Linked DNA regions of Homo sapiens. The protein of the gene in region 1 purifies or fractionates together with the protein of each later gene. This does not show direct contact. Each region holds a gene or a part of one and is shown on either strand. Other genes may lie near its edges.

Region 1 (7,028 bases):
TTTGGGCATGACTCTGGCATCCTTTGATACTTTCTCTGGAATTCTCTTAAACTAAGAACTTACTTTTTTACGTGGCTTTTCTCATTAGTTGTAGATAAGCGAATCTCAGAAAAGAGAACGATTTCTTTTCCCTGTTCAGGAGGGCAAGAGAAATTTCTACATTAGCTATCTGCACAAACTGGCCCCTTAACCTAGATCATAGTGCCGAGCTCATTTTTGGACAGAGTACAGAGCATTGTGTTTTCGTAGCAGAGATAAAGGACAGTTGAAAGACTGGGATTCTCGGTCCAGCTCTGTCACAGTCCTCCTGTGAGCCCTAGGCAGATTATTTAACTTCTTAGTTCTGTTTCTCTATCTGATAAATGAGCTTCAGAATACCTGTTTTACTTGCCCACTGGGGTTGTCGTGAGAATAAAATAGGACAATAGACATGAAAAGACTGTGGCAAGTTAAAATGGTTATAGAAATATGTGTTATGTTATTACACTTCTACAGGTTTGTTGATGGGGCTCTTGTGGGTTACCGGATGATTATGTTCAAGGCTTGATACTCTGCTGCTGTCTTGCTGGCTGTCTGTCTCTACATAACTTGTAGCAGCAGTTCTAGTATAGCCTCTAGTTCTTCCCTTTTTCGACTTCTGATACCTGTATTCGCTGTTATCTGGCTATCACCATGACTATGGGCTTGTTTCTGAGTTATTTGAATAGGATGCATTTGTTTCAGCAGTGGTTCTCAAATTTGGCTATCCATTGGAATCAATGCCTGGGTCTCATCCCCAGAGATTCTGATCTAATTGGAATAGGGTGCAGCTTGGCCATTGGGATTTTTTAAAACTCCGTAGGTGAATCCAGTGTGTGGCAGAATTTCAGAACCACAATTAGACATGGTCCTGAGCAAAACAGTATAGCATTGTGCTGTAGGAGGCCAGGAATCAGTGACAGACACCTCTTGGCTCACTGGGAACTTCTGTGACTCTGCCCTCTTCCCAGGGGCATAATACCTACCTCCTGGCAGCTTCCTGCCCCACTGAATTTCACTCTTTCTCTGAAAGCTATTTTTTTGAAACAGGGTCTCATCACTCTGTCGCCTAGGCTGGAGTGCAGTGGCACTATCACAGCTCACTGCAGCCTGGACCTCCTGGGCTCAAATGATCCTCCACCAAAGCCTCTCAAAATGCTTTGATTACTGGCGTGAACTACTGTGCCTGGCCTTTCTCTGAAATCTTTTTTTTTTTTTTTGAGATGGAGTCTCGCTCTGTCGCCCAGGCTGGAGTGTAGTGGCATGATCTCAGCTCACTGCAAGCTCTGCCTCCTGGGTTCACGCCATTCTCCTGCCTCAGCCTCCTGAGTAGCTAGGACTCCAGGCGCCCACCACCACACCGGCTAATTTTTTGTATTTTTTAGTAGAGACGGGGTTTCACCGTGTTAGCCAGGATGGTCTCGATCTCCTGACCTTGTGATCTGCCCACCTCAGCCTCCCAAAGTGCTGGGATTACAGGCGTGAGCCACCGCGCTGGGCCGTTTCTCTGAAATCGTAATGAAACAGCAGAGAGATAAGAATCCAGAGTGACAAGACAGAGACTGGCTCAATAGAGTAGGAGATTTCAGGCCCCTTGCTCAATGCAGGAGTACCCAATCCCCTTTCATTTTGACTGTGTACTTCTAATATGAACACTGTTGGAAAATATCCCAGAAATAAAGAATGAAAACTGAAAATGATCTAGCAATAGTTGCCCAGAACAGTCTATTTGGAGAGCCTTTGGCTGAACCCAGCTGGTCTGTCTGTTCTTCCTTCACTTCTTTCTTCACAGTAGACTTTTAACCAGAAGCTTCCCTAAATCAACTACCCACTCTGGTTTTTTCTTGAAACCGTTCAACTATTTAAAACACTTAACCATCCACTTGCATCCATCTTCAAGTGCATTTAAGCTTCTTGGCCATGGACGGGAGGGTTTGGGGACTGTAACTTGCTCTTCTTGTGAGAATTCTGGCTTACCCCTCAGCTTGGCAGAGGGCCAGGTCTAGCTAATTAGAGTTGTTTGTAGTATCTGCTAATTATTCCTGGAAACGTTTGCATAACAGCTTAGCTTTTCTTTTTCTACTGTAATAAATTAGGCTTTGACCTTTCTTTAAATCCAGCTTTTCAGAGTCTTTCTGTCTGAGGGGTGATCTTGAGTTGTAAATGAGTATGAATTCAGCCATCTGTACTCTAAAAGCCGAGCTACTTTGCTGGGTGGGTGTAGGATCACAGGAGTGGAGTTTGGTACACTCTTGTCTTTTCCAACTTTGGAGTTCTGTCCTGTTTCTGTTGGGAAATGTTGAAGATAATCGGGAGGTTTATTCATTTTCATATTAAATCTCTAAACAGTTGAATGGTTCAATCCGTTTAATTTTATGACATGAACACATAGCAAGTCTTAGATTTAAGTTTTAACCCTTAGTCTAGTGTTACCTGCATTTGTGTTTTCCAAGTCTGTTGATTGCTGATGTGGGCTTGAGGGGTTTTGCATTTCATGCTCCTCATTGATTCTAATGTCTTTCTCACTTTAGCCATGTTTCCTGAGAGACTGGGAGTTGCAGGTGCACTTCAAAATCCATGGACAAGGAAAGAAGAATCTGCATGGGGATGGCTTGGCAATCTGGTACACAAAGGATCGGATGCAGCCAGGTATTGGGAGCCTGTGTTACTCTTGTGTGGGTGTGACAGCCTGATTTTTCATGTGCCCTCTTTTTGAAAAGGTTCCTTCCCCACAGTGCCAGCTGTTTTCCCTCTCCCTTAATGTATGTGGATGAACACTGGCCCTTCTAGTCTCTAGAACGGGTCTGAGTCCTCATAAGCAGCTGAATTTGACTCATCCTGAGGCAGTTGCTTGCTTGTTACTTCTTTCTGAGTTTCCTTGTGAAACTACCTGGCCTGTTGGCTGGATGAAAGCACTGGCTCTCCTGAACGCTGACGATTGGGTGAGCTGATTTCTTCTGAACATTTACAGTGAATGATCTCAGCACTGCTGAGTCAAGAGAAGAGTTATCTATTTTCCTTGTGTTAGAGCTATTATTGCTCCATGTAGATGGCAGGCTCAACCTGATTTGACCTGATCTCTTTTGCAACAAGAAGGAGAACTAGGGAATTCAGTTCTCTCTTGGGGGCATAGTCTTTACCAATTGTTTGTAAAGCAGAATTCTGTAGGGGCACCTTAGCAACCAGTTTGGATCAGGAAGCTGCCTGAGTGCTAAATAAGGTTGCAGTGGCCTTCTCTCTTTCCCTTGCCTCCAACAACAAACAATTACAGATATTTACTGGGCACTTGTTACAGGCCATGCACTTTGCTGGGTACTTTTAAACATGTGTTTTCTCATCTTGAGAGAGGCTTGGGAGTCATTTGAATTTTACTTTTTCCTCCATCATAGTGATATATTATTCCTTTATCAACTCTTAGCTTTATTTCATTGTTCATCATCTGTTCTCTCTCTCTAGGGCCTGTGTTTGGAAACATGGACAAATTTGTGGGGCTGGGAGTATTTGTAGACACCTACCCCAATGAGGAGAAGCAGCAAGAGGTAATGGCAAGTGTCAGAGCCTAGGTCAGCTACACTGACATCACAGTTCTTTGCCTCAGGAATGTTGTACAGGAGGGAACAAAGGAGATAGAAAGTGAGGGGTTCTTCATCTGTTGAACTTTGAAAGTTAATGTCCTTGTCAGTGTTTTTTTCTAAAGGGACTATTTAGGAGTGCACAGTCTTTTGGGAATAGCTGTCTTGAACAGGGGCTTTTTCTTTAGTGATAATCATGTTCTCTCTTGTGCCTATTAGATAGCCACTAAAATTGAGCATGTTTGGTTGATTGGTGATTTGGCTGCTAGACCAGCACCAGAGCAAGCTGAATTTACGTAACTCAGCCTCCCCTGACTTTTAATCCATCAGTGCTGTGCTCTCTTCTGCAACTTGCACACACTTTTCAGCTTCTTTTTCTTCTTCTTCTTCTCAGACCTGAAGAACAGTTCTCCTCGCCTATAGAAAAGGCTATAATTGGCCAGGTGTGGTGGCTAACACCTGTAAGCCCAGCACTTTGGGAGGCCGAGGTGGGCAGATCACCTGAGGTCAGGAGTTCGAGACCAGCTTTGCCAACATGGTGAAACCCCGTCTCTACTAAATATATAAAAATTAGATGGGTGTGGTGGTGGGTGCCTGTAATCCCACCTACTCGGGAGGCTGAGGCAAGAGAATCACACCATTGCACTCCCCCCTGGGCAGCAGAGTGAGACTCTTGTCTCAAAAAAAAAAAAAAGAAAGAAAGAAAAGGCTATAACGAGAAGGAAACTGATGAAAGCCCAGCATTTTGTTGGAACCTAGTATCTGGCTGTTGGCAGGCCTTTTTGTTACCTGACCTAAGAGTTTTTTAGTGCTTTCTTTTTTTTTTTTAATTTTTTTTTTTTGAGACAGAGTCTCACTCTGTCGCCCAGGCTGGAGTGCAGTGGCGCGATCTCGGCTCACTGCAACCTCTGCCTCCCAGGTTCAAGCTATTCTTCTGCCTCAGCCTCCCGCGTAGCTGGGACTACAGGCGCATGCCACCACACCCAGCTAACTTTTGTATTTTTAGTAGAGACGGGGTTTCACCATGTTGGTCAGGATGGTCTCGAACCCCTGACCTCGTGATCCGCCTGTCTCGGCCTCCCAAAGTGCTGGGATTACAGGCGTGAGTCACCATGCCCGGCTATTGCTTTCTTATATTGACAGTGGGTTTGTACTCTCTCTATGTCCTACGGCACTGCCATCAGATGGTGGGAAATTATGACAGGTTGTTGCTGGGTATCCTGTAGCTAAGTACCTAGCGAGGAAATCAGGATTAGAAATAGAGGCAAAGGTCACATTATTTTTTTCCTCAAAGGTTTATTATGAAAATTTTCAAACTTAAAAAACATTAGAAGGCCAGGCATGGTGGCTCACGCCTGTAATCCCAGCACTTTGGGAGGCCGAGGTGGGCAGATTACTTGAGGTTAGCAGTTTGAGACCAGCCTGGCCAACATTATGAAACCCTGTCTCCACTAAAAATACAAAAATTAGTATTTTTATTAGTATTAGTGTTAACCTGTAGTCCCAGCTACTTGGGAGGCTGAGGTGGGAGAGTCACTTGAACCTGGGAGGTGGAGGTTGCAGTGAGCTGAGACCACGCCATTGCACTGCAGCCTGTAATCCCAGCTACTCAGGTTGCTGAGTCAGGAGAATGGCTTGAACCCAGGAGGCGGAGGTTGCAGTGAGCTGAGATCACACCACTGCACTCCAGCCTGGGCAACAGAGCAAGACTGTCACCAAAATAAACAAAAAAAATTAGAAGAATAGAGAATGATCATTGTATCTGTGATGCTTAGATTCAACAGCTGTTAACATTTCCCACAGAACTCACTTTTTATTTTTTATTTTTTTTATTTTTTGAGATGGAGTCTCGCTCGTCTCCAGGCTGGAGTGCAGTGGTGCAATCTCGGCTCACTGCAACCTACATACACCTCCTGGGTTCAAGCCATTCTCCTGCCTCAGCCTCCTGAGTAGCTGGGATTATAGGCACACGCCACCACGCCCAGCTAATTTTTGTATTTTTAGAGACAAGGTTTCACCATGTTGGCCAGGATGGTCTCCATCTCCTGACCTCAGGTGATTCCTCCACCCTGGCCTCCCAAAGTGGTGGGGTTACAGGTATGAGCCACTGTGCCCAGCGAGCTCACTTTAAAGGTGGTGGAATGTGAGACCTGAGTTAGGAGAATAACCTTTTGTTGTGGATCAGTTACAGCTGCTTCTCTGTGTTCCTTCTGGGCTGTTCTTCATTCCACATACATTAACCACTTTCTAGGTGCCAGGCCCTGGGAATTAGTGAGCAAGATAACATGGTCCTTGTACTCAGTAGCACTGAGAATGCTGATGGGGGAACTCTGGGGCACTATGGGAGGACACAGCAGGAGCTTCTAACCTGAAGTGGGGCAGTAGTGTTGGTGGTAGTGGGGAAGGCTTCTTCCAGGAAGTGCCTTTTAGGTTGAGGTCTGCAGAGTAAGGAACCCGTGTCCCATGCAGAGGGAAAAAAGCCGAGGTCCTAAGGTTAAGAGAGGGGATGATGAGGCTGGGTGCAGTGGCTCATGCCTGTAATCCCAGCACTTTGGGAGGCCAAGGCGGGTGGATCACGAGGTCAGGAGACCGAGACTATCCTGGCCAACATGGCGAAACCCCGTCTCTACTAAAAATACAAAAATTAGTCAGGTGTGGTGGCATGCTTCTGTAGTCCCAGCTACTCAGGAGGCTGAGGCAGGAGAATCGCTTGAACCTGGAAGGTGGAGGTTGCAGTGTGAGCTGAGATCACGCCACTGCACTCCAGCCTGGGCGACAGAGTGAAACTCCATCTCAAAAAAAAGAGAGAGAGAGGGGATAATGAGTGTGTGGAAATAAAGTAGAATCAGAGACAGATGAGGCTAGAATGAAAAGCAGGGCCAGTAGTCTTGTTATGTTGCACAGTTCCTAGGGCTGCTGTTCACCTTGCATTCTACAATATTAACACTGTAGCCTCGGCATGTTAACTAGCCGCTGAGACTGACTGGCATCTGCTTGGGTGGTTGGTGGCTGAACTGTTTAGATGAGAGCCAGAGCAGACTGAATGTATGTGACTCATGCTCACCATATACCACTTGGGGCCAAGTTCTGAAGGATTGTGTTCCTGTTGAGGAGTCTGGACTTGATTCTGAAGGGGTAGGTACATTAAAGGATTTTATTGAAGAGAGGATCATGACTGGATTTGTAGTCATGCTGAGGAAATAGTGGTAGTTAGAAATGGATCTGAATAAGAGTTATCAGCTTTAGGGCCTGACAAGAGTTTTAAACTTGTCTCTCTGTTTCTTCCAGAAACAAATTGTTCAAACTCTGTTAGCTTCCATTTCACCATGAGATAGTAGTAATTCTGGTTTGAGAAAGTAGAAATTCTGACTTGGGTTTATTTTGTAAGGATTTTGTAGATGTTAATTAAAAAAAATTTATTTTAGATGGTAAAAATTG
Region 2 (7,028 bases), on another chromosome or scaffold:
TCTTGATAAATGTGGACACACTAGCTCCTCTCACCAAGACTCAAGTGTCATGGCAGCCTCCCTTATTTCATCATTGAGGCCCTTCCGACAATTATAGGACAAGCAGACACCAGACATGTATTACATTCTTTCTGTCTTCAAAGCACTTTACCAATACCAACTTAAAAAGATATTTAAACATCTCCTTTTGATTGAGCTCTCAAGATTGAGTTCTCCTCATCATTCCCACTAATCTCTATAAATTTTTCCTCTAAAGAGGATCTTGGAATGATTTTGTAAACCAAAAATAAAATTCTAGGCCCCTCAACTGACCGAATGGACCCCTCTGACTGAACGGCCAAGGGCATTCCAAAGTAAACATGAAAAACTAGCTCAGGCTATGATGGGAAGCGGGGGTCAGACGCACCTCATTATACTCTCCTCCCTTTGGAATTCTGGCACAACTGACCAGCATTAATATTAAAACAGAGATCTTAAGACTGACGAAACACTCTTTGTAGCAATAAAATACCAAATTCTAAACTGACTCTAGTATAACATCACACAACAGATAGCAGGCTGTGAAAGAAATAAAGGTATTTTACCCCAAAATATATTTCTTAGACCTATTTTGAAATGGCCCTGCAAAGCTGTCTCTTGTGTGGAACATTCTATAGAAAAAGACCTTTCTGATCTCTTTTTTTTTTTTTTTTTTTGAGATAGGGTCTCACTCTCTTGCCCAGGCTGCAGTGCAGTGGCATGACCACAGCTCACTTCCACTTTGCCCAGGCTCAAGTGATCCTTTCACCTCAGCCTCTCAAGCAGCTGGGACCACAGGTGCATACCATCACACCTGACTAATTTTTTTTTTTAATTTTTAATTTTTTTGTAGAGACAGGCTCTCACTATGTTGCCCAGGCTGGTCTTGAACTGCTGGCCTCAAGCAATCTTCCTGCCTTGGCCTCCCAAAGTGCTAGGATTACAGGTGTGAGCCACTGCACCACCCCAGGTCTTTTTTTGATCCAGGAGAGATTTAACTAAGAGTCTGGCACATTTTACGTTCTGATAAGAGATAATAACCATCTATTCTCTGAAAGCCTGCTACCTGGAGGCTTCGTCTACATATTAAGAACCCTGGTCTCCATGACCCCTTACCTTATCTTAACCCAGACACTCCTTTCTATGGATTCCAGGTCTTTAGATAATAACTTAATTATTTCGACCAACTGCCAATCAGAAAATCTTTGAATGTGGCCACATGTGTGGCTCATGCCTGTAATCCCAGCACTTTGGGAGGCTGAGGTGGGTGATGACTTGAGGCCAGGAGTTCAAGACCACCCTGGGCAATATGGCGAAATCTCATCTCTACTGAAAAAACACAAAAATTAGCTGGGTGTGGTGGCAACATGCCTATAATCCCAGCTACTCAGGAGGCTGAGGCACAAGAATTGCTTGAACCTGGGCGGCGGAGTTTGCAGTGAGCTGAGATTGCACCACTGCACTCCAGTCTGGGTGACAGAATGAGACTCTGTCTCAAAAAAAAAAAAAAAAAAAAAAAAAAGCAAAAATAAGAAAAACAAAAAAGAAAATCTTTGAATCCACCTATGAACTGGAATAGAAGTCCCCGCTTTGAGTTATCCCCTTTCCAGACTGAGCCAATGTACACTTTACATGTATTGATTGTTGTCTGCCTATAACTTCTGTCTCCCTAAAATGTATAACATCAAGCTGTAACCCAACCATGTTGGGCACATGTTCTCAGGACTTCTTGAGACTGTGCTTTGGGCCTTGGTCACACATTATTTATCTCAGAATAAGCCTCTTTAAAGATTTTACAGTTTGACTCTTTTCATTGACAATGAAATGTTTCATTGACAATGTAATGATGTTTCATTGATGAATATACTAACAACTGTTTTAAATTTGACAAAATAACAGTTTCAGCTGTGAGAAATACTATGGCTTAAGCCTCCTTCCTTACCAGAAATTTTCTCTATGGCACTGAATGACACCTGAGTCAGTTGTCCGGGAAATGCTCCCACATAGCACTGTTCATCACTTGCTGCAAGAGGAAGGGAGCACACCCAACCCATAGAGGCATCCTTTTCTCACTGCACTCCTCATTCTTCTGTTCCCTCAGTTGAAGAAGCCTTCTTTAACTTCCTTCACCCCAGATCATTGGCTGGAGAAGACTCTGAGCCCCACAATCCAGAGAAATTCAGACAACTGATTCAAGTTCTGGTTCAGTGACTACATTTTTGAAATATGTGGAATGCCCAGGAGTACCTTCATTAAGCAATATGTATTAGAAGAAAAAGAATTTCAAAAAGTCTCCTACAATTGAACTTGATCCTCCATTGTTTTTTGAAACTCCCTTGGAAGCTTGAATTTTCCTTATTTGGCAAATGACCTGGTTTCCTCCTCATTTACATGTTAAGGATGGAATTTTAAAAAAATTAATTGGTTCATTGTTCTATCACAAGCACCAGTAGAAAAGTGAAGCAAAGCCAGGCTATAAAGAATAGTAGGCTGGCCACAGGGCCGCACTGGCTCACACCTATAGTACCAGCACTTGGGGAGGTCAAGACAGGCAGAACATTGGAGCCCAGGAGTTCGAGACCAGCCTGGCCAACATGGCAAAACTCCATCTCTACAAAAAATACAAAAATTAGCCAGGCATGGTGGTGTGCACCTGTGGTCCCAGTTACTCGGGAGGCTGAGGCAGGAGAATCGCTTGAGCCTGAGAAGTCAAGGCTGCAGTGCTGTGGCCGTGCCACTGCACTCCAGCCAAGCAAGACCCTGTTCCCGTCCCTCCCAAAAAAAGGAACAGCAAATGACTGCTACCATGGTAGTCCCAAAAGGTAGATAGCTCTCTATAGTTTTCTTTTTTTTTTTTTTAAACAACTGGTAATCATTTATTAAAATAGTTGACTTAAGCATCTGCAATGGTGACTTCAACCTCAACTCCTGGCTCAATAATGATGGAAGTAATCTGCTTAACAATCTCAGAAAGACTGTGGAAGTCAATGAGTCACTTATGGATTCTCATCTGGAAACAATACCATGTCTCAGAACCTTCATAAGAAGTTTTTCTTGTAATGTTTCTCAAAGTCTTGGTAGGCATTCAAACTGGTCCTATCACTTTAGATTCTTTTCCTTTGATCCATTGATCAAGTCGGCACACACCTTCTCCAAGGATTTTACCTTGCAGCTCGTTAGAGTGATTCTTTTTATTTATTTATTTTTTTATTATACTTTAAGTTCTAGGGTACATGTGCACAACGTGCAGGTTTGTTACATATGTATACATGTGCTATGTTGGTGTGCTGCACCAATTAAGTCGTCATTTACACTAGGTATATCTCCTAATGCTATCCCTCCCCCCTCCCCCGACTCCATGACAGGCCCCAGTGTGTGGTGTTCCCCACCCTGTGTCCAAGTGTTCTCGTATTTTTTTTTTTTTTTTTTTGAGATGGAGTCTCGCTCTGTCACCAGGCTGGAATGCAGTGGCACGATCTCGGCTCACTGCAACCTCCGCCTCCTGGGTCCAAGTGATTCTTGTGCCTCAGCCTCCCGAGTAGCTGGGATTTCAGGCACGTGCCAACATACTCAGCTAATTTTTGTATTTTTAGTAGAGACAGGGTTTCACCATGTTGGCCAGGCTGGCCTCAAACTCCTGACCTCAGGTGATCCGCCTGCCTCAGCCTCCCAAAGTGCTGGGAGTATAGGTGTGAGCCACCGCGCTGGGCCTAGAGTGATTCTAATTCAGTGAATTGCCACCTCTGGCTTCATGGGCGTTTTTCTGTATCTCCTGACCAACCTGTTTTTTGGTGAGAGCGAGCGGCGGTGAGTCAGGAGCAAGAGCAGGCTTACCACAGCTCCACACCACGTTGTTTATCAAAGAGCTATATTTTTTCTTTAAATCTAAAACATTCAGACAAGTGAACAGTCCCAACTTACGAGTGACTGAATTTTCTGACTATAAAAAAGACAGTATGCTTAAATTTCTGGCAAATGTTTTCTATCTCTTGGCAAGGCTCCCAAATGCCAATCTTAACTCATTTGTCCCCTGAGCCCCCAATTCCATTAATCCAACCAGACCTACCTACCTGTCCCCTTCCAACCTAGACTCTGTCTTCAACCTCATACAACAGTGTCCTGCTCTCCAACTGAAGCTCATTTCTGAACCAAAGACTTGCAAGGATCAAGGCATGACCATTTTTAAAATCTCTGCCTATCAGCTTCTTCCTTTACCCCCAATCTCCACATTTCTTTCATCTTCATCATTGATTCTCCTCTTCCAATTTTCTCTAAACATCTTTGTAAAATGCAAAGTCCTTCAGGTGCTGCTAGGACAATCACAAATGAATTACAACAATGGATAAGGTTACAAGGGAATCCTGTCCACCCTTCCATGGACACAGAGAACTCTTGATGTTCCATTTACTGTCCAGAAACACCAAGGCAATAAGCAACACTCTCTATAACGGCCATATGTAGATCTAGGTCAAGATCTAGATATAAAAAGAACTGTACCACCACAAGGGCTCCAAAATGTCCCTTCATTCTCAATCCTGGCTTCTTGCAAACTTTCAGAAAAGTTGCTGAAATTTATCTACGGATTCAAATTAAAAAAATAATAATAAATAAATAAATAAAAGACTGTGTCTTTCTGGTTGCTCCAATTATACTATGGAAAGGCCTAGTAGTATCAGCTCAACTCCAGCCCCCTACAGTAGGTTTGCCCAACCCCAAGGCCACAGACCAGTACCAGTCTCTGGCCTGTTAGGAATCAGGCCACACAGCAGGAGTGAGCAGCAGGCAAACAAGTGAAGCTTCATCTCTACAGTCAGTCCCCATCGTTAGCATTACCACCTGAGCTCCACCTCCTGTCAGATCAGTGGTGGCATTAGATTCTCATAGGAGCACGAACCCTATTGTGAACTGCGCATGTGAGGGATCTAGGTTGTGTGCTCCTTTTGAGAATTTAATGCCTGATCTGTCACTGTCTCCCACCACTCCTAGATGGGACTGTCTACTTGCAGGAAAACAAGCTCAGGGCTCCCACTGATTCTACATTATGGTGAGTTGTATAATTATTTCATTGTATATTACAATGCAATAATAATAGAAATAAAGTGCACAATAAATATAATGCACTTGAGTCATCCCCAAACCTTCTCCCCTTTAGAATATATCACAAACTAGAAAGTATACATACATCCCCCCGACTGTGGTCCCTGGTCCCGAAAAGTTTGGGGACTGCTGCCCTACAGTTTTCAAGTCATGAGGTGACTAATTGACAAAACATAGCTGCACTGACCTCACCTCGACTGCCAAGAACCACAGGCCTCATCTAGGTCCATCCCAACATCTGGGGTAATCTTGGCTAAACTCTTTCAAATCTCAATTTCCTAATGTTTTCATAGACAGGGTTAATACTGCTGTTTCCTAATAGGAGTATTACACTAAATTAGTAGACATGCAAACAGTTATGAACAGTTTCTGTACATTTATTTCATAATTAGAATACTGTCTTAGACAAAACTTTATTGCTTTTTTATTTCTTCTGTGTTTCCATATTTCATATTAGCATGACAACAAAACTAGGTTCTTCTATTCATTTCTCTTATTTAGGTAAGCATTATCTGATGACGAGGTTGTGGGTTTTTTTTTTTTAATGTAACTGTGTCTAGCAGAAAATCTACTTGTAAATGGGCATTCAAAAGATAGCTGTATGATTGAATTACTGAGCAGAAAATTACCACTTATTTTCTATATAATTTCCTTATAACCAATCTCTCTGGTTATCTATCTTTCAGGCTGAGTTCTCAAGGATAACCTACAGATAAATGATAATCACCGGTTATAAGAGTTTCTAAAATATGCTGTTTTTATGCATGTATCAAGACAGTTTTTGGAAACTGGCAAGTAATAGCAAAGAACTTTTCTACCACTAGTTTCCAGTTAAAAACTGGGCTGTTTCTAGCTATAGCTTTAACCCTAGATTGTTAGTGATGCTAACACTTAATTCCTAACAGTCTTATTTCCCCCAAATAAAATTAAAAACTTAAGACAGAAAGATAAAAACAGGATTTAACTTATATTCCATCACACAGAGAAACTATGAGCTCCTATTTCTTAAGAGTTGTCTTTCAATGTGGAAATTTATCATAGAGCAAAAGAAAAATAAAAACAAAATGTGGTATGCTCACATTTTTGAGAAGTGATGCTAAAAATTTTTTTTTAAAAAGACTCACATATCTATAGAACAATTGTTATTTGTAAGATTAAAAGATGGAATCACAATTTTATACTGTATTACAACCCACAAATATCTCATTTGTTGCCCAGACTTCCCATTTTTGAAGTTGAAAAATACTTTCAACTGGATACCAATCTGAACATGAAAGCAAAAATAATTTTTTAAGACAACTAAGTCCTCCTTGTTTGATTATGCACCACACTGCGGTAATAAAAGTGATTCATAGGACCTACATTCATATGAAAAAAAAAACTATTTATGTTTTCAGTTCTGGGACCTCAAAATGCCAAAATACCAACCTTTAGATATACTTTAGAATATATCACAAACTAGAAAGTATATATACTTTCAGCTGGGCGCGGTGGCTCATGCCTGTAATCCCAGTACTTTGGGAGGCTAAGGTGAGCGGATCACTTGAGGTCAGGAGTTCACCTGGCCAACATGGTGAAACCTCATTTCTACTAGAAATACAAAAATTATTTGGGCATGGTGGCGGGCGCCTGTAATCCCAGCTACTCGGGAGGCTGAGGCAGGAGGATCACTTGAACCCGGGAGGCAGAGGTTGCAGTGAGCTGAGATTGTGCCACTGCACTCCAGCCTGGGCAACAGAGTGAGACTGTGTCTCAAAAAAAAAAAAAAAGAAAGTATACATACTTTCTAGTATGTATTTCATATATAATCAGACCTCCTTAATCAGATTCTGAGGGTGAACCTTAGCATTTGCATTTCTTAAGATGAATTTAAGTTTTTACAAAATATACCAACCCTGCATGCAAATGAAGAC
Region 3 (7,028 bases), on another chromosome or scaffold:
GGACAGGCTGTGAGATTTCTCATCTTCTCCTAATCCAAGTTGGAGAGGTTAAATTCCTAATGAATGCAGCTGAGAAGTTGAGGGCTCCCTTACTTCAGTCAGCCCCCACTTACAGGACAGAGGCTTTATGCCAAGTGCGGAAAGTTGAGAATCCTAGGGCCCTAATTGCCCTGGCCCTAGCTCTCTAGTAGGACAGAGGTTCCATACCAGGAGAGACAAGCTGAGAAGACCAAACAAGCTTCTGCAAAGCAAGCAGAATGGAGGAAATAATAAGGATTAGGGCAGAAATTAAAGAAACAGAGGATGGAAAAATAGTAGAGAAAATCAATGAGACCAAAAATTGGTTCTTAGACAAAATCAGCAAAATTGACAAACCTTAGCTATACTGAACAAGAAAAAAGACAAAAGAGCTAGATGACTAAAATCATGAAAGAGAATGGTTACATTATCTTAAGAAATAAAAGAATTACAAGGGAATACTTACATACAACAACTGTATGTCATCAAATTAGATAAATGAAATGGACAAATTGCTAGGAAGGCAGAAACTACTGAAACTGACTCAAGAAGAAATAGGCAATCTGAATAGACCTATAAGAAGTAAAGAGGGTAAACTGGTAATTTTAAAACTACCAACAAAGAGAAGCACAGACCCAAACGGTTTCACTGATAAATTCTACCAAATACTTAAAGAATAATTAATACTAATTCTTCATCTACTCTTCCAAAAATTAGGAGAGAACACTTCCAAACTATAAGACCAGTTTGGCCGGGCGCGGTGGCTCACACCTGTAATCCCAGCACTTTGGGAGACCGAGGTGGGTGGATCACCTGAGATCAGGAGTTCGAGACCAGCCTGGCCAACATGGCGAAACCCTGTCTCTACTAAAAATACAAAAATTAGCCAGGCGTGGTGGCAGGCACCTGTAATCCCAGCTACTCGGGAGGCTGAGGCAGGGAGAATTGCTTGAACCCAGGAGGCAGAGGTTGCAGTGAGCCGAGACGTGCCATTGCACTCCAGCATGGACAAAAGAGCAAGACTCCATCTCAAAAAACAAAAACAAAAAAACAGTTCATGCCTGATTCCAAAGCCACGAATACATCACAAGGAAAGAAACCCACAGACCAGTATCCCTTAGGAATATAAGAGCAAAGATCCTCAACAAAATGGATTTGGCCCTCCATATTCACAGGTTCTGAATCCGCAGATTCCACCAATCTCAGATAAAAATATATGGTATTTATGGGATGTGGAACTCACAGAACTTGACTTTTCCTATCCATGGGTTCCACAGGGCTGACTGTGGGACTTGAGCCCGCAAAGATTTGGTATCCTTGGGAGGTCCTGGAAACAATCCCCTGCAGATACCAAGGGACAAATGTACTAGGAAACCAAATTCATTAGTATGTAAGAAGGATTATTCACCATTACCAAGTGGAATTTGTCCCCAAAATGTACAGTGAGTTTAATATCTGAAAATCAATTAATGTAATACATCATGTTGACTGAATAAAGGACAAAACCCATGTGATCATCTCAATAGATGCAGAAAAAGCATTTGAGAAGATTTGACAATCCTTATGCATTCAACTGGCTAGAAATAGAAGGGAACTAAAAGGCATCTACAAAAAAAGCCAGAACTTTACACTGAATGGTTAAAAGAAAAAAAAAATCAGTTTTCTGACTAAGATCAGGAAGAAGACAAGGATGTGTGTTCTCACCACTGCTATACAGCATTGTACTGGGGGTTCTAGCCACAGAATTAGAAAAAAGATTAAATAAAAGGCATTCACATTGGAAAGGAAGAAGTAAAAGTATCTATACTTGCAGTAATCTTGTATGTAGGATTCTACGGCTCCACTACAAAACTATTGAACTAATAAATTAGTAAGGCTGTATACCAGATCAGTGTACAAAAATAAATTGTATTTTATATACTTAATTGATTAACACACTTATAGTCAAATTAAGAAAACAGTTCCATTTAAAGTAACATCAGAATGGATGAAATACTTAAAATAAATCTAATCAAGGAAATATAGTTCTTATACTCCGAAAACTACAAAACATTGTTGAAAGAAATAAAAGAACATTTAAATAAATGAACAGACATCCCCTTTTCATGGATCAGAAGATTTAATATTGTTAATATAGCAGTACTCACCAAAATGATCTACAGATTCAATTCAATGCCTGTCAAAATCCCTAGAACCTTTTTTTTTTTCTGCAGAGATGGAAAAACCCATCCTAAAATTCATATGGTAATTCAAGGGACCCAGAATAGCCAAAAATAAATCTTGAAATAAAAAGAACAAAGTTGAAAGACATACACCTCCCAATTTTAAAGCTTATATCTTAACTACACCAATCAATGTAGTATGTTATTGGCTTAAGGATAGGTGACATACAGATCAATGGAATAGGATCTAAAGTCCAGAAATAAACTCTCATATTTATAGTAAATTGATTTTTTAACAAGGGTGCCAAGACCATTTAATAGGGAAAGAATGATCTTTTAAACAAATGGTGCTGGAAAAAAAAAATATGAATGAAGTTGGACCCTGCCTTGCACCATACACAAACACACAAAAAAAAACTTTAAGTAAATTGATTGATTAATCAAATGTAAAACTAAAAAACTCTTACAAGAAAACATAGGTGTAAGTCTTTGTGATTGTGGATTAGGCAATTAAAAGATGGGCAAAAGATCTTTTTTTTTTTTTTTTTTTTGAAATGGAGTCTCGCTCTGTCACCCAGGCCGGAGTGCAGTGGCGCAATCTCGGCTTACTGCAACTTCTGCCTCCCAGGTTCAAGCCATTCTCCTGCCTCAGTCTCCTGAGTAGCTGGGACTACAGGTGCCCGCCACCACACCCAGATAATTTTTTAATTTTTATTTTTAGTAGAGATGGGGTTTCACCGTATTAGCCAGGATGGTCTCGATCTCCTGACCTTGGGATATACCCGCCTAGGCCTCCCAAAGTGCTGGGATTACCGGCATGAACCACCATGCCCGGCCAAAAGATCTTAATAGACATTTCTTCATAGAAGATACGCAGATGACAAATAAATACATGAAAAGATGCTCAACATCATTAATCATTCGGGAAATGTAAATCAAAACCACAGTGAGACACCAGTTATACCCACTGGGATGGTTATAATGAAAAAGACAATAACTAGAGATGGCAACAATGTGGAGGAATTGCAACCCATACCCTGCTGGTAGGATCACGCAGCCATTGGAAATCAGTTTGGCAGTTTCTCGAATGGTTAACCATAGAGTTGCTGTATAATCCAGCAGTTTTACTCCTAGGTGTATATTCAAGGGAAATGAAAATATAAGTCTACACAAAAACTTCTACATGAATGTTCATAGCATTATAATGTTCATTATACATAATGGCCAAACAGTATAAACAACCCAAATGCCCATCAATTGATAAATGGATAAATAAAATTTGGTAATATTATTCAACAATAAAAAATATGGTATATGCTACAATATAGATGAAACTTAAAAAGATTATGCTAAATGAAAGAAGCTAGTCAAAAAGGACCACATATTGTATGATTCCATTCATATGAAATGTCCAGAAAAAGCAAACATAGAGCCGGAAAGTAGGTTAGTGGTTGCCTAGGCTTCAGGAAAATAGAGAGTAATGGCTAAAGAGTGCAGAATGTCTTTTGGGGATGATGAGAACATTCTAAAATCGACTATGGTAATGGTTGCACAGCTTTCTGAATACACTAAAAACCATTGAATTGTACACTTTAAATGGATGAGTTGTTTAGTGTGTTAATTATATCTTAATAAACCCATTTTTAAAAGAACAGAAAACAGGCTAGGCACGGTGGTTCACACCTGTAATACCAGCACTTTGGGAAGCCACGGCGAGCAGATCACCTGAGGTCAGAAGTTCGAGACCAGCCTGGCCAACATGGTGAAACCCCATCTCTACTAAGAATACAAAAATTAGCCAGGCATGGTGGTGGGCACCTGCCCAGCTACTCGGGAGGCTGAGTCAGGAGAATCGCTTAAACCTAGAATACAGAGGTTGCAGTGAACCGAGATTGTGCCACTGGACTCCAGCCTTGGTGACAGGGTGAGTCTCTGTCTCAAAAAAAATAAATAAAAATTTAAAATTAAATAAATAATAGAAAAGAAGCATCTCTGCCTGGGTCTTAAAGGACAGAGGCATCTTCTGCATCCCCACTCCTACTCCTACCTCTACTCCCTGCCACTGCACCTGTATCAGTTTTAGTTTTGCTGAGGTTTCAGGAGTGGCAGGGGAGAGTAGGTACAGGAGTGTTTACTAGAGAGTCTAGTGAGAATCTCATTCAGTCTGATGGACAGATCTGGGAAGAACACTATAAGCAGTCTTGCCATGCTGACATGGCAAATTAAAGTTGCTGTTACATTCTTTTATTAGGATGATTAATTCAAACCTAAACTTCTCTGATTCTGCATGGCCCATAATGATAAGGAACCGAGTACAAGCCATGGTTCAGAAGGAGCAATCAAAATCACAAAATTGTATCTACAAAAAGACTTACCCACCCCAAGGGGGAAAAATGTGTGGACCCATGAGAATTAATTAACAAGAGCAGAATGCAGCAACTAAAGGCAGTTGGTACCATTTCTGTAACTTTTGCAGAAAGCCAATTAATGGGTCATTTTTATTTCTTAAATGCCCAATTTTAGAGTGCTTAATTTGTTTGAACCATAGGAATGGCCTTGAGAAAATTGAAATGGGCTATTAGTAAGTTATAGAAGTTATAACAAAAGCCATTTTTCAAGATTTTCTCTGCCAACTAAATTTGACAGAACTGTGTTTTCACTTATAACTGGCTATCCATTGTAAACCACATTAACATACTATGGAAAACTTACTTTCTCTCTTTTTCATCAGCCAGCTGTGTTAAGATGCCTTTCAGTTCAGAATGAAATATTCTACTGACCGTCTCCCATTGATACCATTATCAGCAGTACTAGTAGTAGCCTAGTTTTTAAATGATTTGTTAGTGTGTAAAAACTACATGAAGTCAAAAACCAAAACTTCTAGAAAATTTTTAAATATTTTCTCTAATAACATTTTGGTCTTCGTTTAGAGTATTATTGATATTTCTGATATTGAGAATATGTATATCATAATTTAAATATTTCCTAGGAACCAAATTTTGCAATTGATATGCTTAATCCAGTTTATTAAGCTTTGCAAAAATACACTGTTGAATTTTGAGCATAAATTTGTCTTCTTTTTTAAATTGAACAAATCTCTGGATTAGAGATTCATTTCATTTCATTCACTGAATATTTGCATACCGCTCACTGCCTTATATATATCTCAGACAGCAATCTTAACATAGATCACCTTTCACTGATGGAATCGTTGGGAACTTTCCCACATGACGGCAGTCGCCCCCTCCCTTTCTGGTTATCTCTGCCACTATATTTCAAAGAGTCCTGCTTTCCAGCCTGCTTTTGATACAGATAATGTCCCTGTACTAGTCATAGAGATGAGTCAAGAAATCACTAACATCGATTTTAATCTGACACATTAGTTATTGATATGCTGCAGTAGTCATTTGCAGTGGTAGTTACACCAATTTGAACCTAGCCTGCAGGACTTGGAGTCCAAATCCCAATATGTGAATTATATAGCACCTTTAAGACAGTTCTACCTTGTGACCTTCTGCTCCATCCCCCAACCAGATAAGCCTGGGTTGTCTAGATTCTAGGCAGTGGCCACAAATTGTTATCTCCCCATGTTCAAAAGATTGTAACCATAAGACATATATACATTTGGAATTTGTGAGGATAAATTTCTGAGAATTTGAATTTAAGGGCTTAAAGAAATTCTCATGAGGGAGGGCTATGCACTTTTTTTTTTTTTTTTTTTTTTGAGATGGAGTCTTGCTCTGTCACTCATGCTGGAGTGCAGTGGCGCCATCTCAGCTCACTGCAACCTCTGCTTCCCGGATTCAAGTGATTCTCTTGCCTCAGCCTCCCGAGTAGCTGGGATCACAGGCACCTGCCACCACGCCTAGCTAATTTTTGTATTTTTAGTAGAGACAAGGTTTCACCATGTTGGCCTGACTGGCTTTGAACTCCTGACCTCAGGTGATCTGCCTGCCTCAGCCTCCCAAAGAGCTGGGATTACAGGCATGAGCCACTGTGCCTGGCCACTATGCACTTTTGTCTTCGCCTTTCTAGCTCATCATTGAGGAAATCAGTAGTTATTTGCTTAGCATTCAATGATTACTCTTGCTAGAAGTGGTAATTTATTTTGACATAAGACATGCATAATTTTCCCCATCTTAAAAAAAGAACTGACTTTAATCCCACATTTTCTTCCAGCTAACACACCATTCTCTAACATCCCTCCCGTTTTTCTGTTTTGCTTTGCAAAATAACTTCTCAGAAGAGCTTTTCTTTTTTCCCCCTGCTGCCTCACTTTCCTGCCTCCCATTCCTTCCCCTTTCCAGTTTAGCTGTTCATCTTTACCACGCATCGAAAGTGCTCTTGTCAGGGTCACCAGCTGTCTCCATACTGCCAATTCCAATGTGCATTTTCTGGCCTCATTTCAGGTGCATTCTCAACACAGCAGATGTTACCTCTTTCTTGGCACACTGCCTTCTCTCAGCTGTCATGGCACTCGGTCTCCTCACATCTTCCTCCCTTGGCCATTCTTTCTCAGTTTCCCATGCTGTTTCCCCTCTTATTTGGGACTCCTTATAGCTTCCTCTAGACCCTTTTCTTTCCCCTCCTTCTCTCTCCCTGAAAGGTTTTATTTAATCTCACAGTTTTCAAAACCATGAATATGTTAAATACTCCCAAGTTTTATTTCGCCAAGATAGACTTCTCTCAACTCCAGATTCCTATCTGTATCCAACAGCCTACTTTATATCTCTATTTGGGAATCTCAGCTATCTCAAGGATTTAGATATATTCTATATTTTGGGTTGGCTCATGTTCTAAACTGGAATTTATTTATAATTATGTTGAAAACATATAATAGATAGAACT
Region 4 (6,984 bases), on another chromosome or scaffold:
GCCTGCTTCGTGTCCACTGCTTATCTAAAATGTTATTCCTGAGGGGCGGGGGTGGGGGCTCATAGCGAATCTCATTCATAAGCGCTGCTTTGTTTTTCTCTCTGTGTTGCTTCCATGACTTCTTTTTAAAAAATTCTTTCTTCCCCTATGCCTTGGGGCTGCTGGCAGTGGTGGTAAATCCTGCTGATGACCCGGGGTTAGATAATTAGTGGTACCTAGATTGCATTCATTTTATCAATGAGACAACTTCTAGGAGTTTCATTTCAGGCCACTTAGGAAAACACATAGCCAGAAGGTGCCACCCTCTGCCATAGCGGTTGCTGCCTCTGTTTGTTCAACATAAGAGACAAGTGAGCTCTTACGCTATTTCCCGTGACTTGCAGAGCCAGGGAGTGCTACCAGAAAAGGAGTCACTGTTAACCACAGAGTGAGGATCCAGCAGGAGCGCCCGCCAATAAAATGTTACATCGGTATCAAATATAAATCAGAAACAGCTTTCCCTAAATTCCTATATTTATTAACTAACACAAATCTGTAAAATCACTGAAGGCAGTTATTGTTCTACTGGTTTTATTGCTCATCAACGGAAAAGTTAAGAAACCAGCTCAGAGTCCTAAAGCAAGTTGCAGCATTGACACAACAGTAGCCTCTTAATCCCTTTCTCTCTCCTGTGGCTGGCCCTGGAAGAGAGGAAGTTTTCAGTCCTATGGCCGTGTCACATGTCAATATCCTGGGATAACTGGTTCCAAAAGATTCTGGCAGGGACTACGGTCATCACATTAATCTAAAGAATGGAAGTAACATGTGGACTGCCTCAGTTCAAACAGACCACAGTTGCTAAACAGAGACCCAAACTGGGCCACGACGCTGCCTTCATTTAGGAGACGAGACAGAATTTAAAGGAAAGCACTGATTGCTGGAAAAGCAACAGAGAATTAAAACAAAATTTGCAATCTCAATTGGAATTTCTGATTTACTCTTGGGGCCACCTGAGAAGCAATGTGTGACACAAATCAACAACAACAGCAAAGAAATGAAGATCAGATAGATTCCTTTCTACTTGCTCTTTCACTTTTCTAAATGATGCCGGAGGATGCTACATCACATGAGACAGAGCAAAGTTGCTGGAGCCACTCTCTCAAGAGGACTCTGGGGCTGGAAACAATTGTGTCTTGTTCCCTGACACAGTCTTGGGAAACAAAGCCCATGGATTAAGTAAACTCACCCAATGATCCCATCCTGGGCAAAAAGAGAATGATTCCAGCATGCAGACCCTCAGTATTCCCATAGCAAGTGACCTCTGCCCATTAAACAAACAATAGCACAGCCTAACACTCGATTGTTTTGAATGTTTCTGAAGCCTTTGCTTCATTCCCAAAACACTAGAAAGTATCACTGCAGAGGATTAAAAGCATTCATTGATTATGGAATGTAGACATTACAATAAAAAGAGACTCTAGAAATTTAATTTTGTGAAGAAATGCAAGATTCTCATTAATTTAATTAGAACATAAATAACATCAAGCATAGCTAATAAAGTTCAACATGATTTGATTTGCATGAGGCTCTATTAATGTAAGAAGTAAAGTGATATTTGCAAACTCTCAGAAAGCTGGACAGTTGGAATGGTTTCCTAAACAGCTATCTATTAGGCTACACAAAACTTGGTTTTTCTTTCCATATGTTACACATCATGAGAATTACACAAATCTATGACAGGGACAAAAGTGTTCCTGGACCACTGGAGGGAAGAGCCTGGGAACTGAGGATTCCAGGAGACCCGTCTTCCTCTTCATATTCTCCTCTTGTCCATCAGTTTAGGAGCCAGGCTAAAGCTGAGGCATCTTAAAATTTCGGAATGGGAAGGAAAAATAACATTAGCTACCCTGGAGGCTGTGGAAATAAATGCATCTGAATGCAAAGGACAGTGACTTGCAGGCTGCCTGAGATCCAATAAAAGCCTCATCAGAAGTAGCTGTCAATCACTCTAACATGTATGGCTGGTTCCAATAATTCTACCAGTCAAGATAATAAAATTTCAGAACACTAAATCAGCTCACAGCAAACCAGTTAAAAATATTTTGTGATCGCCGTGACCACCATGGTGGTCTAATACCCTGGGTTATATGTTTTAATAGAAAACACAAATGAGGCCGGGCGCGGTGGCTCACGCCTGTAATCCCAGCACTTTGGGAGGCCGAGGCGGGCGGATCACGAGGTCAGGAGATCGAGACCATCCCGGCTAAAATGGTGAAACCCCGTCTCTACTAAAAATACAAAAAATTAGCCGGGCGTGGTGGCGGGCGCCTGTAGTCCCAGCTACTCGGGAGGCTGAGGCAGGAGAATGGCGTGAACCCGGGAGGCGGAGCTTGCAGTGAGCCGAGGTCACGCCACTGCACTCCAGCCTGGGCGACAGAGCGAGATTCCGTCTCAAAAAAAAAAAAAAAAAAAAAAAAAGAAAACACAAATGATTCCATTCTTGGAAGAGTCTATCAGTTAGCACTTTGAGAAGACAGTCAGCCCTGAGTGCCCTGCCTCTCTTTCATTTCCTTTCCTAAGTACTGGAACCTCAGTCACAAAAGAAAACCAATATTTAAGTCAACAGACATACATTTAAAATTATTTCGCTGATGTGACTATGAATTTTACTTATAAAACAAGGACGTGCTGAATAGTTCACAGTATTTTTGGTGTGTTCATTTCAAGCATCTTGAACTGCTCTTTTCCTCAGCTTCCGTGTCCCAACACTGCCCAGATTTGCCCTCTCCATCTTCAACTACTTTTTTCCAGTCTCCTTTTTAGACTTGTCTGCCCTCCCCAGTTTCCAATACCTCGATACTCTCTTCTCATCTTCTCCTCCTTTTCTTCTAGGCTGTCTCATCCGTGCCCTCAATTCCCACCTCTCTACAGATGACTCAGCAACTTACCTTTAGTTTATCCTTAGTTCAGACTTCTCCTCCAAGCTCCAGACCCATCTAAAAGCCTTCATGGCCAGGTGCGATGGCTCATGCCTGTAATCACAGCACTTTGAGAGGCCGAGGTGGGCGGATCACTTGAGGTCAGGAAATCATGACCAGCCTGGCCAACATGGTGAAACCCCGCCTCTACTAAAAATACAAAAATTATCTGGGCGTGGTGGTGCATGCCTGTAATCCCAGCTACTCAGGAGGCTGAGGCAGGGGAATTGCTTGAACCCGGGAGGTGGAAGTCTCAATGCGCCAAGATCACCCAACTGCACTCCAGCCTGAGCGACAAGAGCGAAACTCTGTCTCAAATAAATAAATAAATAAAAGCCTATGTGACATTTACCCTTAAGACATTCTAAACACATCTCCAATACATCTAAAGTTGAATTCATTGTAGCCTCTCTACCACATAGTCGCCCTGGAATGCTTCTAATCTCAGTGAATGACATCACCGCCCAATTATGCAAGTCAGAAACCTAGTGATTATCTTGCTTACCTCTCTCTTAGCCTCCGCTTCTAATACATTATCAACTCTTGTCAATTTTATTTCCATCTCTGATAAGCACTACCCACATACAGGCTACCATCATCTCTCATCTGAACCACCACGGTAGGAAGATCTAGGGTACAGTTCAGAGAAAGCAATCAGGCAGGAAAACCAGTAAGTTTTATTGTTTGAGACAGGGCCTCAGTCTGTCACCCAGGCTGGAGTGCACTGGCGCAATCTCAGCTCAATGCAACCTCGACTTCCCAGGCTCAGGTGATTCTCCCACCTCAGTCTCCCAGGTAGCTGGAACCACAGGCAAGTGCCACCACATCGGGTTAATTTTTGTATTTTTTGTAGAGACGGGTTTTCACCATGTTGCCCAGGCTGGTCTCAAACTCCTGGGCTCAAGCAATTCACCCACCTCAGCCTCCCAAAGGGCTGGGGTTATAAGCATGAGCCACCGTGCTGGGCCACCAAGAAGTTTTAAGAAGGCAAATTGACTGGATTAAGAAAATGTGGCACATATACACCATGGAATACTATGCAGTCATAAAAAAGGATGAGTTCATGTCCTTTGTAGGGATGTGGATGAAGCTGGAAACCATCATTCTCAGCAAACTATTGCAAGGAAAAAAAAACAAACACCGCATGTTCTCACTCATAGGTGGGAACTGAACAATGAGAACACTTGGACACAGGAAGGGGAACATTACACACCGGGGCCTGTCATGGGGTGGGGGAAGTGGGGAGGGATAGCATTAGGAGATATACCTAATGTAAATGACGAGTTATTGGGTGCAGCACACCAACATGGCACATGTATATATATGTAACAAACCTGCACCTTGTGCACATGTATATATATGTAACAAACCTGCACCTTGTGCACATGTACCCTAGAACTTAAAGTAAAATAAAAAAAAAAAAAGAGAGAGGAAAAAAAAAAAGAAGGCAAATTGGTGGAAAAGGCATGTGGCTGACAGTGGAGAAAACAGATGAGAGCAAAACTGAAAAGGGTCCACTGGCTTCAGGAATAAAGAGGTTATTTGTGACCACGGAGAGTCATTTCAGTGGAGAAGCGTTTTTAAAAGAACGGTCAAGCCTTGTGCATTTTACCTGTCTGGAAAAAGAAAGGGAAAAGGAAAGCCGGGCCCAGTGGCTCATGCCTGTAATCCCAGCACTTTGGGAGGCCGAGGCAGGTGGATCACGAGGTCAGGAGTTCAAGACCAGCCTGACCAACATGGGAAAACCCGTCTCTACTAAAAATACAAAAATTAGCTGGGCATGGTGGCACATGCCTGTAGTCCCAGCTACTCAGGAGGCTGAGGCAGGAGGCCTGAACCTGAGAGGCGGAGGTTGCAGTGAGCCAAGATCGCAGCATAGCAACAGAGCAACAGAGTAAGACTCCGCCTCACAAAAAAAAAAAAAAAAAGAAAGAAAAAAGAAAGGGAAAAGGAAGCGACTGAAGATAGGAGAATGTGGAAAAAAATTAATGGAGCCAAGGATCCAGAGGAAGCAGAGGGGAATGCCACACAGGGCCCAGGTAGAGGGGGCACCACTGAACAGAAGAAGGGATGAAGGCATGTCTTTTTTGTTAGAGAAAAACAGAGAACATGTGTGTTGACCTCTCATTATTGAATGAATCAGAAGAAAGCATTGTCAGAAATGGAGGTGAAAACTGTTGTTACAAGAGAACAAAGTATTGGGATAGTAATTGATTAAATGAACATTTATTAAGTGCCCAGAAGCTGAGCTCTGGGAAGCCAATGGTAAACCAGAGAGAAGCTATAACGATTCACATGAAAATCCCAACTCTGCAAGGAATGAAATTTCAGCACGAGTGTTAAACTGTCAAGAATGGGAGCAGATTAAGGGGACCATGTGGAAAAAAATCTTCAAGCCCGATGACAAAAGCCTCAAAGATGCAAGCAGGCATCCTTGAGGCTGTAGGTGGTGATGAGAAGCGGGCTTCAGAGAAGGAGGAAATACTGAGTGAAGGTCAGTGGAGCGGGAAAGAGAGGCAGTGAAAATGCCATCCTGCCCAGGGGCCTCAGAGGCCAGATCTGAGGGGACATAGCAGGCTGGTCTCAAAGCCCTGTAATACAGTAATCCTATGACAAACAGGCAAAACAGCAGCCTCTGGAGCTGCATTCCATCCCAGGCCCTTACTGTCTCCCTGCTCCAGGCTCTCTGGGTGGACAGAAGACCTCCCAGGCTGTGTCCATGGGGAATGGCACCATGAGGAACACCCTGCTAGATCCTGCCTTTCCCTGCTCTCGTGGGCTGCAGGGCCGGGACTCGCAGGGAGAATTGCCAGGCTCTGATGGTAATCACCCACATGCTCAAAGTGCACGCAAGATAACTTGAAGAAAAGTCAGGCATTTTCACTCTGAGATCAGCATGCTGATGACACATGGTCTACATCTCCCCTTTTATCTCTAATCCTGACACCACAGTTTCACAACGTATTCAGCATCTGAGGAGCCTAACAGGGGACTGGGATCAAAGTGAGCCAGAAAAAGATTAATCCCGATAAGACAGAGGTTATGATGATAGCCGGGAGAAAATATTTAAAGAATGTGGGGAGCGCTCTTCTGTGTCTCTCGTAGGAACGTGTCTCTCTCCTACTTGCTGGGTCACTTCTGGCATTCCGTTGATCTCAGTGGACGTCCATGACAAGACAAGCCCAACACAAGCAGGCCTATTTATGGTTCCCAAACTCAGAGTCAGTGACAGACTAAATAGGCTCTGACTCTCGCTCTGAAATATCCGGGTGGCTGTGGCTAACCAGGGTCTTCATAAATCATGAGTTTAATTAAGGCAACAGCCAATATCCACTTTTTCTCCCCATAGAAGTTCCCCCACTGCAGTCATCAGCAAAGCAAAAAATGCTGCTTAACTTTCCCCCAGTTTCACTACTCTACAACTGTTATTACAGTATTGTTTTTTTCCCAGCCATTTTAATTAATGTTGTTTTGTGAAATTTCTTCCTGAATCTATTTCTCTGAGAAGTTTAATTTTAGAAAACCAAAGTGTCAAATGATCTAGCATTAATTACCCTATTTTTACACTTTGAAAATAGCAAACTACTAATCAATTTTTGTTTCTTCTTTATAATCAGATAGGTGTAATGATTTTTTTCCAGTAAAGCTTTTTTTGCGATTATTTGGGATACAGTATTACTATAAGCAACAAATATTAGATATTATTGTCCTTCCTTCTTATTTCATTTGAAGTATCCATAGTGGTATTTTCTCCCTACCCTGTCTCCGCCCCTATTTGGTTTGAAATCTTTTCTAACTAGACCTCTTTCAAGAAGGAAACTCTATAAAACTAAATCATCTTTTTCCTGCAAGATAACCTGAACTCTTGAAGAATCCACTTATTTGTATGACAATGTCAAAGTTTTTGCAGCATGCTAAATGTTAGACTGTAGTATTTTAGTAAGTTTCTTGCCAGCTTTTAGAAACAAAATATATTTTACTAATAATGGAAAGAATTCAATAAATTAAGCAATGAAAGGAGCAGAAG

What was found.
Region 2: the proteins of LMAN2L (region 1) and LNPEP purify together in Homo sapiens (co-immunoprecipitation; 3 studies listed by BioGRID and IntAct, with this or other methods). This does not show direct contact.
Region 3: the proteins of LMAN2L (region 1) and ARSK purify together in Homo sapiens (affinity purification with mass spectrometry; 2 studies listed by BioGRID and IntAct, with this or other methods). This does not show direct contact.
Region 4: the proteins of LMAN2L (region 1) and TENM3 purify together in Homo sapiens (co-immunoprecipitation; 3 studies listed by BioGRID and IntAct, with this or other methods). This does not show direct contact.

Annotation. Positions count from the first base shown.
Region 1 is NC_000002.12:96,730,048-96,737,075, reverse strand, and holds part of LMAN2L (VIP36-like protein isoform 2 precursor), read left to right. Parts: intron 1-2,549; coding exon 2,550-2,667; intron 2,668-3,474; coding exon 3,475-3,557; intron 3,558-7,028. UniProt on the Homo sapiens protein: May be involved in the regulation of export from the endoplasmic reticulum of a subset of glycoproteins. May function as a regulator of ERGIC-53.
Region 2 is NC_000005.10:96,939,073-96,946,100, reverse strand, and holds part of LNPEP (leucyl-cystinyl aminopeptidase), read right to left. Parts: intron 1-7,028. UniProt on the Homo sapiens protein: Release of an N-terminal amino acid, cleaves before cysteine, leucine as well as other amino acids. Degrades peptide hormones such as oxytocin, vasopressin and angiotensin III, and plays a role in maintaining homeostasis during pregnancy.
Region 3 is NC_000005.10:95,558,092-95,565,119, forward strand, and holds part of ARSK (arylsulfatase K precursor), read left to right. Parts: intron 1-7,028. UniProt on the Homo sapiens protein: Catalyzes the hydrolysis of pseudosubstrates such as p-nitrocatechol sulfate and p-nitrophenyl sulfate. Catalyzes the hydrolysis of the 2-sulfate groups of the 2-O-sulfo-D-glucuronate residues of chondroitin sulfate, heparin and heparitin sulfate.
Region 4 is NC_000004.12:182,239,420-182,246,403, reverse strand, and holds the start of TENM3 (teneurin-3), read right to left. Parts: upstream 3,003-6,984; 5' UTR 2,928-3,002; intron 1-2,927.